Linked DNA regions of Homo sapiens. The protein of the gene in region 1 interacts with the protein of each later gene in a pairwise test. Each region holds a gene or a part of one and is shown on either strand. Other genes may lie near its edges.

Region 1 (3,500 bases):
TTCTGAAGGGCAGACATCGCAGCGTCTGAGAATATGTATCGGCAGTGACCCGGGGTGGGGGAGAGATGGAGCGGATTGGGTGGTTTGTGGAGAGCTTAATAAAGGGACCATTCGCCCAGGTGCTGGAGGAGCGGAGGGAGACTGCCAGGGACAGCGGAGTGCAGTTTTCCCAGGCCAGGAACCCCGAGGGGTCTGTTGGAGTGTGTGGACAGGGCCCTCAGCGGAGCTGTGACCTTCTGTCAAGCGACACAGCTGACTGAAGAGACCCCATAGGAGGAGAACTGGGGAATAAAGCCGCAGCCCTGCCCTTCTCCCTCCCCATCTCCCCGCCTGATGCTCCCCTGGGCCGGCTCCATGTGGAAGGCTGAGGGCAAGGAAGCCTCCCGGAGCGCAGCAGGGCAGGAAGGGTGGGGAGTGGGTCTGGAGGGCTGCACGGGAAGCATCCAGCACAGACGCCTGTCATTCAGCCCAGGCGTGACCCCCCACCTTGCCTCCACCCGCTTTTCTAGTGCCCACACCCGCCTCGCCGCCATCCCCAGAGTTCCACAGCTTCTCTTCTTATTCCAGAGGCAGGCTTCTGTCTCTCACAGCTAAATCTCCATCCCGAACCAGACCACTTCCCTGAGCCAAAGACTACCTCCAAGTGCCTACTTGCCATCTCCTCTCCAAGGTATCATAAATTCACTGAGCCCAGACATATACTTTTTTTTTTTTTTTTTTTTGAGATGGAGTTTCTCTCTTGTTGCCCAAGCTGGAGTGCAATGGCACAATCTCTACTCACTACAACCTCTGCTTCCTGGGTTCAAGCGATTCTCCTGCCTCAGCCTCCCAAGTAGCTGGGATTACAGGCGCGAGCCACCACGCCTGGCTAATTTTTGTATTTTTAGTAGAGGCAGGGTTTCACCATGTTGGCCAGGCTGGTCTTGAACTACTGACCTCAGGTGATCCGCCCACCACAGCCTCCCAAAATGCTAGGATTACAGGCATGAGCCACAGCGCCCAGCCTTCTGAAATACTTTCTGACCAGGTCCCTCTCCTGGCATAACCCTTCACTGGTTTCCCCATTGTCTCCAGCATAAAACTCGGATGTCTCATTCTAAGATCCAAGCCCCTGCTTCTCCCTCTGGCCTCACTCACTGTTCTCTCTTGCTGCTCCCTTGACCTCTCCTGCATGACTCACCCCTCTGCAGCTCCTCCCAGCTTCTCTGGGCAATTTTTAATTCATCCTTCAACTTTCGACTCAGGTGCCAAATCCTCCAGGGCACCTTCCCTGATTGTTAGCCTCCTTTCTAGGTTAGACTCCCCTTCCCAAGTCCCCAGCACCTTTGATCCTTGTCCTCAGCAGTGCTGTGTTCCAGGTGTATATTGACTCCTCTGTCTAATAGACTGGGAGGTCCTGGAGTTGCTGCATCCAGTTCTAGCCCCAGTGCTGGGCACTGAGCAGGAGTGAGTAAATAAATGATACATGCTAAGCATCCTGCAGGACAGTCCATCTCACTGTGGCATGGCTCTGACTTTTAGGCAATGCCTCCTCTTACTGCGGACAGGAAGCTGGATCTGTGGTCCTGCAACTGCCCCTCCATCCATAAGGGTCCTGGCTGTGCCCTGGGGACCTTACAGAGAGAATATCTACCTTCAGAGACTTGAAGACAATTGTCACAGCCTTCCAAACCAGCCTTTCTCAATTATAAAGGTCACAGTCAGTTATTTTTATTTATTTATTTAGAGATAGAGTCTCACTCTGTCACCTAGGCTGGAGTGCAGTGGCGCGATCTGGGCTCACTGCATTGTCCGCCTCCCAGGTTCAAGTAGCTGGAACTACAGGTGCCCACCACCACACCTGGCTAATTTTTGTATTTTTAGTAGAGACGGGTTTTTGCCGTGTTGGCCATGCTGGTCTCAAACTCCTGGCCTCAAGTGATCTGCCCATCTCAGTCTCCTGTAATCCCAGCAATTTGGGAGGCCGAGGCAGGCAGATCACTTGAGATCAGGAGTTCGAGACCAGGCTGGCCAACATGGTGAAACCCCGTCTCTACTAAAAATAAAAAAATTAGCCGGGCACAGTGGCACACACCTGTAGTCCCAGCTACTCAGGGGGCTGAGGCAGAAGAATCACTTGAACCTAGAAGGTGGAGGTTGCAGTGAGCAGAGATCCTGCCACTGCACTCCAGCCTGGGTGGCAGAGAGAGACTCCGTTTCAAAAAAAAAAAAAAAAAAAGTAACAAGGTTTGAGAAAGGTTTAGTTTTTCATATAAATTTGAGTGGTTTCAAAATTATCCCTGCAATAACATCACTCTCATTCACCTGCTTTCCTGAGTGGGAGAGAAAGGGGTGAAATCACAGCTTGAACGCTGCAATTATGAATCCTGGGCAATTATAAACTATCATGATGTTTTTCTTCCTTATATAAGTTTAGCTCTTTTTTTTTTTGATCAATATCTAGGTGATCCCATGAGCAAGCATGTCATACATGTGACTTAGAGTTATTGCAGGGGAGAAGGGTTAAGGACTGCTTTTTGAAACCTACATAGTTCTTTTAATCACTCTATTTATTTTTATTTATTATTTATTTTTGAAATGGAGTTTTGCTCTTGTTGCTCAGGCTGGAGTACAATGACTCAATCTTGGTTCACTGCAACCTCCACCTCCCAGGTTCAAACGATTCTTCTGCCTCAGCCTCCCGCGTAGCTGGGATTACAGGTACCCGTCACCACGCCTGGCTAATTTTTTTTAGTAGAGACAGGGTTTTACCTTGTTGGCCAGGCTGGTCTTGAACTTCCGACCTCAGGAGATCCTCCTGCCTCGTCCTCCCAAAGTGCTGGGATTACAGGCATGAGCCACCGTGCCCAGCCTTATTTATTTATTTATTTATTTATTTATTTTATTTTTTTTTTTTGAGACGGAGTCTCACTCTGTTGCCCAGGCTGGAGTGCAGTGGCGCGATCTCGGCTCACTGCAAATTCCGCCTCCCAGGTTCACGCCATTCTCCTGCCTCACCCTCCCGAGTAGCTGGGACTACAGGCACCTGCTACCACGCCCGGCTATTTTTTTGTATTTTTAGTAGAGACGGGGTTTCACCATGTTATCCAGGATGGTCTTGATCTCCTGAACTCGTGATCCGCCCGCCTCAGCCTCCCAAAGTGCTGGGATTACAGGTGTGAGCCACTGCGCCCGGCCTACTTTTTTTTATTTATTTTTTTGAGACGAAGTCTCACTCTGTCACCCAGGCTGGAGTGCAATGGCACGATCTCGGCTCACTGCAACCTCTGCCTCCTGGGTTCAAGCAATTCTCCTGTCTCAGCCTCCCCAGTAGCTGGGATTACAGGCATGCGCCACTACACCTGGCTAATTTTTTGTATTTTTAATAGAGAAGTGGTTTCACCAAGTTGGCCAGGCTGGTCTCAAACTCCTGACCTCAAGTGGTCCACCTGCCTCAGCCTCCCAAAGTGCTAGGATTACAGGTGTGAGCCACTGTGTCCAGCCATTATTATTATTATTAT
Region 2 (3,500 bases), on another chromosome or scaffold:
CATTAAATGACCTGGTCATGGTCACACAGTAAATGAGAGTGTCAAAATATCACCTAACGTTCTAATCCTAACCTGCTAGAAAGTAAACTCTAGAAGGGCAGGCATTGCCTCTCTTGGGTTCACTGCCAGCACCTAGCACAGCACCATGCACACCACTGGGGTTAATGCTAGTATCAGTACACATGCTCAGAATAAATATTATGAGAGTTAACTGCACTTCACAAAGAAGCCACGTAAGTAATAAATGGACAGTAGCTCCATCTCATATCACGAACAAGGCTAACTTGTAATGAAGAACTGCAGCAGCCCCCATTTGTAAACTAGAAGTGTTTTCCTTTTAGAATAACGAAATATTTGAAGAAAAACAGCCACCCATTTCCAACTGTTACATGGTAGAATGAATCAATCTACCATTATTTTTTTGTTAGTAGACTATAACTACAAGATAGTATTCTAGGATATCTGGTCAATAATACAACCAAGTTAATGATTAGTCCACCCTTCTATATAAATGTTGATTTATGATTACTATATTCATCGTCTAGGCTGAGATAATTTTGAAAATAAAGGGGTGCTATTAATATTTATTCACAGGAATAATGGCAACAGTCTTAGGCAAACCAGAACCTACGAGTCAACTTAGTTCAAAGTAAAAATATTCTCCTTTTCTTCTTTCTTATGGCACCTGCAAGAGATCCCCTGCATAGCTTGGCCTACATTTCTTGTTTCTTGCTTAAATTTCCTGACAAAGTGATGTTAAAAATAGAGACAAATTACTAAATAAATACATGCATATGCGTCATCTAAGGATACACAGCAATTTTCAGATATAGCCCATATTAGGATTTCAAAAGCAGTTGATTATAAAATTGACTTGCAACAATAAAAGCTCAACTATAGGATACGTCAATAACACAGACTTGTCTTGTCAATGTTTAAGATGACTACTTCCAATTTAACCTCCTTCCCATTATTGAACTGTAGCAGTCACCATCCCATAGTCCCATTTTTCAATCACTGACTTTTATATGCCTTATCACAAATCCTGAGGGACTCTACAGAAAAAGCCGAAGCTTCTTCCCACCAGCAATCAAAACCATACAAACCTCTGTCAGCTGCTTCAGTTGGTTTTTGTTTGTACTTAATTCTTCTGCTAGGATATTCTTTTTCACTTGTAGTTCACAGATTTCCTTTCTTAATGGATTCACTAGCTCATAGAAGCGAACCTTGAAAAAAATTAAATTAATAAGCAGTCTTAAATCCAAATTACAATTAAAATTTGTAATTTGTAGTGCTCTCACTTATCAGTAATAAAGATAAATATTTACAAAACTACAACAAGACAGTCATTAATGGACCCTAGCCACTAATACTTTCTATCAAGCCTTAATGTTCAATTAACTTCCCTCAAGGGCCAGATGATTTATAACCTCTTACCTTTGACAGTATTTCCTCCCTTCTACTGACACTCCATTACTACTCATCTACTACTGCTCACTCCACACTAGGTGCTTGTAAACTTCTGGAACATATCACAAATGTTCAGGAGTCTTGCTCTTGCTGTTTCTTCTGCTAGAGAAGTTCTTCCCCCATATAAATGCATGGCTCATGCCTTGTCTCCCTATAGGTCTCTGACCAAATATTACCTTGTTAGTAAAGCCCTCCCTGATTTCTTTACCTAATTTTAAGTAGCACTCCCTATTTTTCACCCCTGCTCTTTTCTCTGTAGCACCTTTGACAAACAGATATTCTACATATTTAATTTTTAAGTTATTGCCTGTGTTGCTCCACTTTCACAACCTGAGGGCAGGGATTTTTGTCTGGTTTATACACCGCTGTATTTCCAATGCCTAAATATATGATAAGCACTCAATAAATACTTGATGAAGAGGTAAAGTGTATTCTTTATTTTCATCCCAGGCTCTTGGCAAAGCTTTATTTACTGCTGTCCCTACAGTGGAAGTCTAATCAGAATGAATCAAGAGGTATCTTTCACATCATTACTTCCATTTAGTTCAGGTCTCTCTTTCCACTCATACTTGTCTCAGAGAAATTTTCCTACCCTAGCTCAGTAAAGTGTTCCATCTGACAAGGTCCCATAAAACTAAGAAATCATCACAGCAAATTAGGAGAGAGTAATTAGGGGCTATCATATAGGCATGCAATCTGAAACTCCTTAACATATGACGGTATTACAAGAATACCATTATTTGGTAAGAGGCAAATCTTAATACTAGCCCTCAACAAAAAGAATCTGCATATAATTAATTAGTTAAGGATAATATTGTCTGTGAAAACAAAAGATGTAAGAAGGAATATTAAGAAAACAAACAGCAAAAATATGTGTAACTGCCACCAGTGTGATACTTTATATCTACTGTAAATGAAGCCTCAAAAACAGAATTTGAGATATTTAATTTGTTTTGGACAGTATACTTTGGACAGAAAAGCTGTATTTGAGCCTTTTAAAAAAAAAAAAAAAACAGCTGAACAAAAAAGTAACTTCATTTTATCAGACATCACTAATCTGCAAATCTTTTCCCAATGAGAACCAAGAATAGCAACCACCACTCCAGCAAAAACAATAGACAACATTTTTATGTGTTTACTATCTTCTAAGCACTATGCTCACAAGCATTTTACATACATAGTTATAGTCTTTACAATTATCCCCAATAGAAACGCACCGTTACTATTAACCCTTTTTAGGGATTAAAAAATTCAAGCCTCTCAGGGTAAAATGACATCTACATATTAAAAAGCAGCAGTTCTCAACATATGGTTTTGGGACTCCTGGACTCTGCCCCACTCGCCACTCTGAGATCCTTTCAGGGAATTCACAAGATCAAAACGACTTTCCTAGTAATTATTAAGATTTTTTTTCCCCGTTTCATTCTCATTCTCTCATGACTGTTCAGTGGAGTTTGCCAGTGGCTACATGACATATGACATTATCACTCTTAAGGCCAATGGAATTGTGTGCTTATTCTTGTGTTTAAAAAAGTTGTTAGTTTAAAATTCTAGTATGGTAAATATTAATAGATACAGCCCATATAAACAAACACTCATTGGGGTCCTCAATAACTTTTAGAATGTAAATGAATGCTGACACCAAAATATTTGAGACCACTGCCATAGATTAATCCTAGGTGTTCTAGATTTGTGTAACCAGCACTGCAATCAAGATCTTGCGCCAATCTCTCACCACAAAGTTCTTTCTCATCCTATCCCTTTATAACCACGCTGACTCCTCTCTCCCACTATCCCCAACCAACCCCTGGCAACAACTACTCTGTTGTTTATAATTTTTCATTTTGAGAATGTAAGAAACCACCAGTTTACGATAATTCATTTCTATGGACTATGCAGTCATTAACTTCAGAAACCTATTTATTGCTTGACTTTGGAGATCAATGGTCATGATCCTTTAAAATTTGGATCTCAACACCATTCACCATCCATAGCCATAAAATAATGTATCAATTGGGTACTTCAAAAGT
Region 3 (3,500 bases), on another chromosome or scaffold:
GAGGTCGTGCCATCTTAGTATCTCTGATGAACGGCACTAGACTTCCAAAGGTGTCTTGGTATCTCTGAGTCCATCTGCTGTGATGGTTCATCCCTGACAAGTTGCCCTAATCTCCCATGACATCACAATTGACTTCAAGGCAATAGCATGGAGTGAGTTTTAAGAAACCAGAGCAGATTAGTACATTGCAGGCAAAGAGCCTTGGGATGGGTTTGCAGAGGCCCCAGGTCTCTGGAGGAAGGAGGTCAAAGGCCTCTGTCCACCCTGAAAGGCCAGAGCTGTGGGGGTGGTGGGAGGGAAGGTCCTCAAAGAGACAGGAAGCCCTGCCCACTCCTGCCATGGACCAAAGCCAAACCCAGCTCCAGCTGGCTCACCTAAAGGGCCCTTATGAATCCCCTCTGCTTCCTCACCACCACAATCCCCTTATTTTATACTGTGTTCAATGAACAAAAAACCAGTTTCTCCATTATTGATGAGATCTGTATAATATGTGTGTGGGCCCAGAAAAGATCTAGAAGGAGATACATAAAATTGTTGTTAATTTTTTTTCTCATCAAGCCCAGAGCTGTCAACAAGAGCCGTTTTTGCACAGTAACACCCTGAGTTGATCAAAATTCTAGTCAAAGGCCAAGGAACTTGATGTTTTGTGCGTTCACACCTCTGAGGTTATCATGTTGGGTTTGGCCAAATCCCAAATTCAGAGCCAGGGCCTGACCCCACGACCATGTGGGTGCATCTGGGAGTGAGAAGCCAGAGGTAGGGCTGCAGGAATAAAAGTGTCCACCTTGGCTTTGCGAGGGGAGCATGGGGAATGTGTTGTTCTGGGCTCTACGCTGGAAAGTCCCCGGGCTGCCCAAGCGCATGGCATGTAGGGCGAGAGCCGCTGCCGCCAGGCCAAGCTAGGCCTTTCCAGGCGTGGCTGCTAAATGCGGGACCTGACTTCGGCCTCCACCATGCAGAGCTCCTGCTGCCACCGTGGGCAGTGGCCCTGCAGTGGTTGTGGTGAAGGGGGTGGGGGCAGCTATATTGAAGTGGGTGGAGGGAGCTATATTGCTGAGACGGAGCCTCCCTGAATCTGGCATGTGTCCTGCCTCTTCTTTTAGCACTCACTGGGCACTTGCAGAAACTCCAGGAGGCCCTGCCCTAGAGGAGCCCACAGTCTGCGAGGCGAACAGAACACAATTAACAGACAGATGTATGAAGTGTGCAGAGGCCAGTGCTGGGCTCTCACCGACGGCCTTTGAGGCAGGGGCTGCTGAGAGGTCCATGTGCACCCTGATGTGCAAAACTAAGCGGCAGCCCCACGTGTCCAATACAGACCAAGCTCCCAGCCACCCCTCAGCACCCCAGCCTCCACCCAGGGAAGGAGGCCACCACCATGGTAACAACCAGGTTCTTGGCTGCTTCTGAGCCTACCATGGAGACAGGCAGGCTCTCAGGAACCATGGCTGGATGAACACTTCCATGAAGCCGGCGAGTGCTAACGGCCGGGGAGGTGTTCAGCATTTACTCTCAGTGTGGAGATCTGGGACGCTTCTCAGAGGTGGCGGTGCATGAGTAGGGCTCTGAGGGATGGGCAGGTGGGACGCCATGAGAAGGGCACCTCAGGCAGAGGGCGTGGCCCAAACAAAGGCCTGGAGAGGGGACCATGCGGGGCCATGCTGCTTACCGTTCTGCTTGGCTGTCTCGTAGTCTTCCTTGCACACCAGCCGCCCGTCCTCCATGAGGTAGAATTCGTCCCCCGTGGCCAGCTGCCGGTTGCAGATGATGCAAGCAAAGCAGTGCAGGTGGTAGACAAAGTCCTGGGCCTTGCGGACCACCTGGGTTGGGGGGATACCCTGCTGGCAGGCCGTGCATTTTGTGCCGAAGCGCCTGTCAGGGCAGCAGGAAAGGATTAGGGCACACAGGGAGCAAGGGATCTGGCTTCCCCCAACTTCCTGGAGCAGCCTCCCTCCTACCCCACCACTCCGGGACTCCATGAGCCTCACCCCCCAGTCACCCAGAGCTTACCGTCTGGTCCTCTCTGCCTCCATCTAGCTTCATTGCTTTGTGCCTGGGACTCTTCAACCACCAAAGAAGGGACTGATGAGAACTAGAGTCTCCCTCAGGTACCTTTTCCAAAGCTGATGCCCCCGGATTCCAGCTGCCCGATTAACACCCATCAATTCACAGGGGGAGCAGGTGGACTTTCTAAGTCCCTCAAAGCAGGCTGTCTCCCCCTCCACCTCCCAGCTTCCTCACCCTTATGGTTGATCCCAGAGGACATCCTCACAGGGAACTGTGTGTGCCACAGGCTGTGTGTAGAAAGCACCCAGCAACACCTTTTCACACACTCCCAGGGAGGAGGCCCTGCCTGGCCAGGGGACAGCACGCTGCAGAGAAAATGCACTTTGTCAGCAGAGCAAGGCTGTCCTGACAGCTGTTCTCTCTCCTTTGCCTCCATTTCTCCCCTCACCTCCATTCTGCACACACAAAGCCCTCCAAGCCTACCTCCATCCCCTTCCTATGCACGCACACAGCCTGGGGCATGGTGGTTTGGGAAGGGCCCAGGAAGCTGCACTTTTCAGCCCCTACAGCATTCGGGACAAGGAGTCTGCAGATTACAGTTTGGAAAATGCTGCTTCAGACCTCTCCTTGGTCAGCACCTTTCCAGAACAACACCGAGGCAAAAGGAAGCTACCTGCTGCCACCAAGGCAGCTTCTACCAAGCAAGCCACCCCCTGCCAAGGCCGGGAAGGAAGGAGAAATTGACACTTAAAAGTATCGTCCAGTGGGGTTGTTTCCACTCCCTTTCCCCATTCTGGTCATAGAGATCAACAGAGGCACACCGATGGTCATAGGAGACGAGGGAAATTTGGGGGCCGACAGGGACAGTGAAGGAGGGTGCGTGGCTGCAGGTGAGCCTTCCCCGCTTCAGGAGGGAGGCGGGAGGCATTGGGAAAGCAAGGGCAGAGTTTAAAACAGCAATCAACCTAATTATTCATGACATTTCACACAGCAGAACTTTATCTTCTTCAGGATGAAAGACTTCGCCTAATGGATCTGGGGAAGGTTTGATTTTAATGGTCCTTTTAACTAATGCTTATAGGCAGCCTGATTTCCCCTGAAAGGACAGTACATATTTCATCCACATTAATACCAAATAAATTAATTATGGTCATGGCTATCATGATGAATACCAGATTAATGCAGAATGATAGGTCTGTTATGCAGTAATGATACCTGCTGAGGGGGTTATGGGGGCCCGGAATAGGCATGGCCAGCAGCAGCCTCAGACGCCCCCCACCAGGGACACAGCATCCCAGAGAAAAGTGGGGGTTCTCTAAGTCTGCATGGGTAATCCTGAAAGACCCAGAGTGTACTTCAGGGAACACTCTTCTGAGATGGGTATAAGAAGGGTGTTGGGGTGTGAGGGGCTGAGAGGTGGTGGCTTGGGAGGACCCCAGGCTTCTGAATTCCTGGAATGCCTCTTGGTTTTCAGAGAGATGGGGCCCATTTAG
Region 4 (3,952 bases), on another chromosome or scaffold:
CTTAGGTATGTGCCCAAAATATTTAAAAACAGATACTCAAACAAATACTTATATGTGAATGTTCATAGCAGCACTATTCGCAACAGCTAAAAGGTAGAAACAACCCAAAGGTCCATCAATGGATAAATGGATAAACAAATTGGGATATAAATATACATATGAAGATGTATATTATTCAGCTATAAAAAGAAATGAAATACTGATACACGCTACAATGTAGAGGAACTTCAAAAAACATTATACTAAGTGAAGAAAGCCAGACACAAAATGTTGTATACATGTTGTATGATGCCATTTCTATGAAATATCCAGAATAGGTAAACCCAGAGACAGAAAGCAGATTGGTAGTTGCTAAGGGCTGGGTGGAAGGGAAAATGGGGAGTAACTGCTTAATGGTTATGGGGTCTTCTTTTGGGGTGATAAAAATGTTTTGGAACAAGACAAAATTGATGGTTGAACAATACCGTGAATACACTAAATGCCATTTAATTGCTCACTTTAAAATTATTAATTTTATGTTATATGATTTTCACTTCGATTAAAAAAGAAAGGAAGGAAGGTATTCATAGAGATTGAGAGGCTAAAAAGTTATTAATCCCCAGATTGTCTTCAGGTACAGAGAAATAACAGAGGATTAAAAACGCTGGCAGTGTGAATGAGGAAACTGTTAAAGTTCAAACCAGGGATCATGTTTTGTTACAAAAATGATCTGACATTTGATCCTTCTAGATCAGATCTGTTAGGAAAAACCTCAGAATCATCATGCAGCTGAGGTGTATGCAGGTGGCAAAAATAAACAAAAAGCTCCCAGAATTATCCAGCTCATATCCATATCTTACAACATGACTCTTAAAAACCTGTCCTCAGGTTAATGGAGGAACAAATTTGTATTTTCCTTTGTACTTTCTATCTCCTCATCCTTATGTTTCCATCCACCCTCTTAATGTCTCCCCTTATCCCATGGGTGAATGGATGGTTTCAGTCCACAGAACAGAAATAGTCAAGCTCATCTGTATACCATATCCTATATATTACCTTCAATGAAGAAATTGGACCTAATGATATTAGATTATCTTAGGGTTTAAGGGTCATGTCCTTTTACCAAAAGAGTAAATGGAATTGCCCTTCACACTTTAGGGCCCAATTTCCAACAACTAACCTCATTCTGTCCTCCACTTTTAATCACCTCACATTCTCATTGCATTTTCAGAATCACTGCCATTCTACAAAAAGCATTTATCTACTCTACCCACCTGCCTCAGGCAAGATAACATTTTCTTTTTCTTTCTTTCTTTGAGACAGAGTCTCACTCTGTCACCCAGGCTGGAGTGCAGTGGTGCGATCTTGGCTCACTGCAACCTCCACCTCCCGGGTTCAAGTGATTCTCCTGCCTCAGCCTCCTGAGTAGCTGGGATTACAGGCTCGCGCCACCATGCCCAGCTAATTTTTGTATTTTTAGTAGAGATGGGGTTTCACCATGTTGGTCAGGCTGGTCTCGAACTCCTGACCTCGTGATCCACCCACCTCGACCTCCCAAAGTGCTGGGATTACAGGCATGAGCCACGGCGCCCGGCCAAGACACCACTTTCTTAAACCTTGAAAGAATGACTTTTTTTTTTTTAAATAGGTATGGAAGGAAAGTGTGATTTGAGACAACTCTAGGGTCTTAAATCCCAGAATTTATAATAGATATCTCCCTGAAGTTAAAACATAAGCCTTTTTGCTGCAATGGAAGCAAGCCACTTAAGGTCAGAAAGGTACTGCTTTACTTTTCCGCATTTCCAAGGTGAGGTCTTCCTCTAAAGGAAGATTAGCTCTTGGCAATCTGGGAGTTGGCTGAACTGGTCAGAAAGCAAAAGGATCACACAGTTTGAGGAAGAGGAGTGGTGGTAAAAATCCCTAATGTCACAGTCTCCTCTGTGTCTAGAGCACAATGTTCATGATACAAATGAGTTAGCTTTCTGGCAGAAAAGAAAGAAGGTGGGTGAGAAGCCAGGTCTTTGATCTGCATCTATATACATCATCAGGTTCATGTTTGAGTTTATATACCCCAGGCCCAGACACAGCTTCCCTGGTTCTAAATCTCCTGTAAAGAGCCCCAGGCTACTCCCTGTTCACAGGTTATAAACTGAGAGAAACAAAGGAAAAAACAGGGGACTCACAGGAGAAGCTGGAAAGAATTGCAGTAAGCTCTTTGAACTTTCCAGAGTCTAGAATGCTCTCCACTTAGAAAGGGAATCCCTTTCATTTTTTTCTAGCCATCCCCAGTGACTTAGGCTCTAATTTAGTCCCAGTATAAGAGAGAGAACACCAACACCAAGAACTGGAGAGGAGACATGATCTTGATTGCCTAGAAAAACTTTTATCCTTCATGTCCAAATTCAAGACAAAATATTAATCTATTCCTAGACCTAGGTTTCCCATCTTCTTCTTTACCACCAAGAGTCCCAAGTTTCACCTAAACTACAGTCATATTTTCACTATCTCCAGATAAGGAGTGCTCATCTAATTTTCTGTAAGTCACCAAAAAATGCAAAACGTCTTTGGAGAGGTAGGGAGAAGGAAGACTGAAACTGGTCATTGGAGATCCTTATAAGGGGGTAGGAAAAGAGAAGGAGAAATACATTAAGGACACTGTAATTATGGCCACATTCAGCTGTTTAATCAGTGATTAACACTGCCTGGGGTGATAAATACTTTACTCAATTATAAACTAAGCAAGCAGACAGGTTGACGGAAAAAAAAACTTACCCTGCTAAGTCCTCAGCTTCCTTCCTTCTCTCTTTCCTCCAAGTGAAATGAGTGCTTGATCTCTTCAGATCTAGGTTGTGGCTTACTTGCAGCTGTCCCTTCATATCACTTTCCTTTGCAAACTGCTGAAATGCTGAGTCTCAGTGATTAAGTGTGCCCTGCCAACCAGACAGACAAGGCTGAATTCTCCCTAATGAGGCAAAGAGGGATCTGTCCCCCTGCCTGAGGGCTTCTCTCTAACCTTTGTTCTCTGCCAAGGGGGCTCAGGACTGTCAACACTCCCAAGTGTTAGCCAAGTAAAGGCCAGGCAGGCTGACAAAAAATGAAACCTGCTGCTTCCTAGACTTCTCTCACTCAAGGCAATATTTCTGTTCTCAGTTTACAGCTTCAGAAGAAAACCCTTTGGATTAGTGCAGAAGTCAATATTTGATTGGAAAGGGTAAGCACCTTTCCAACCAAGTGGGAGGAACCAGAGGACCCTCTGGAGTTCTGTTTGTTGATCTAGACACAGGATGAGTTCCCCCAGGCCTGGTGTCCTTTTTCAGCATAACAAACATTGTTCAAACAAAACTCAACAATGTCCAATCTTGGATTAAGTAGAAGGGAGAAAATAAATGGCCATTTAATGGTACAGAATGAAATCAGTTGTAGGGGAAACATGCAGAATTAACTTGTAAAATTCACTTTCCCTGAAAGAAGGGTAAGATAACTCTCTGAGTGAGAGAGTCATCAGGAGCACTTTACCTGTATTAAGAGAGGAATAAATGCTTCTGGGATATTAAACAAAACCAAAATACTAGTTAATGACTAAAAATACATACTATTTCTAGGAAAAGAAAATAGAAAAGAATCAGCTCAACCATTCTCTTATCCTCCTTGTAATTGCAGCTGATCCAGGAAATTCAATTCCACAGTCCTAGCTTCTTTCTACTTACAGCTAGCCTATCTGAAGTTGTTAGGGCAGTGGTCCTAAAAGACTGCAAGATCTTTCTTACCCTCAAAAAATTTTTTTAAAATTTTTAAATAAAAAAGTTCTGACTTTCTGCTTATATCTGACCCCAGCTCTCACTTACCTGCTTCTTTGAACATCATCAAACTGGGGAACAGAATCACTCGCAATGAGGTCCCGGAATGTGGCAAATCAAATCCACACAGGAACCCCAAACTGTAAAAAGTACAAACTACATGCAGGGAAGGTGGA

Evidence for each region. Proteins that work in one complex are often made in the same cells at the same time.
Region 2: the proteins of DNAJB13 (region 1) and PIBF1 interact in a two-hybrid assay, tested with the Homo sapiens proteins (one large-scale study listed by BioGRID).
Region 3: the proteins of DNAJB13 (region 1) and LHX4 interact in binary tests that used the Homo sapiens proteins (3 or more experiments, as listed by UniProt).
Region 4: the proteins of DNAJB13 (region 1) and MSS51 interact in binary tests that used the Homo sapiens proteins (3 or more experiments, as listed by UniProt).

What each region holds. Positions count from the first base shown.
Region 1 is NC_000011.10:73,954,026-73,957,525, reverse strand, and holds part of DNAJB13 (dnaJ homolog subfamily B member 13), read right to left. Parts: intron 1,614-3,500; exon of another isoform or gene 1,494-1,613; coding exon of another isoform or gene 1,324-1,493; intron 1-1,323. UniProt on the Homo sapiens protein: Functions as part of axonemal radial spoke complexes that play an important part in the motility of sperm and cilia.
Region 2 is NC_000013.11:72,795,633-72,799,132, reverse strand, and holds part of PIBF1 (progesterone-induced-blocking factor 1), read right to left. Parts: intron 1,227-3,500; coding exon 1,107-1,226; intron 1-1,106.
Region 3 is NC_000001.11:180,264,764-180,268,263, reverse strand, and holds part of LHX4 (LIM/homeobox protein Lhx4), read right to left. Parts: intron 2,062-3,500; exon of another isoform or gene 2,034-2,061; coding exon of another isoform or gene 2,011-2,033; intron 1,873-2,010; coding exon 1,670-1,872; intron 1-1,669. UniProt on the Homo sapiens protein: May play a critical role in the development of respiratory control mechanisms and in the normal growth and maturation of the lung. Binds preferentially to methylated DNA.
Region 4 is NC_000010.11:73,430,762-73,434,713, forward strand, and holds the start of MSS51 (putative protein MSS51 homolog, mitochondrial), read right to left. Parts: upstream 2,801-3,952; 5' UTR 2,752-2,800; exon of another isoform or gene 1-2,751.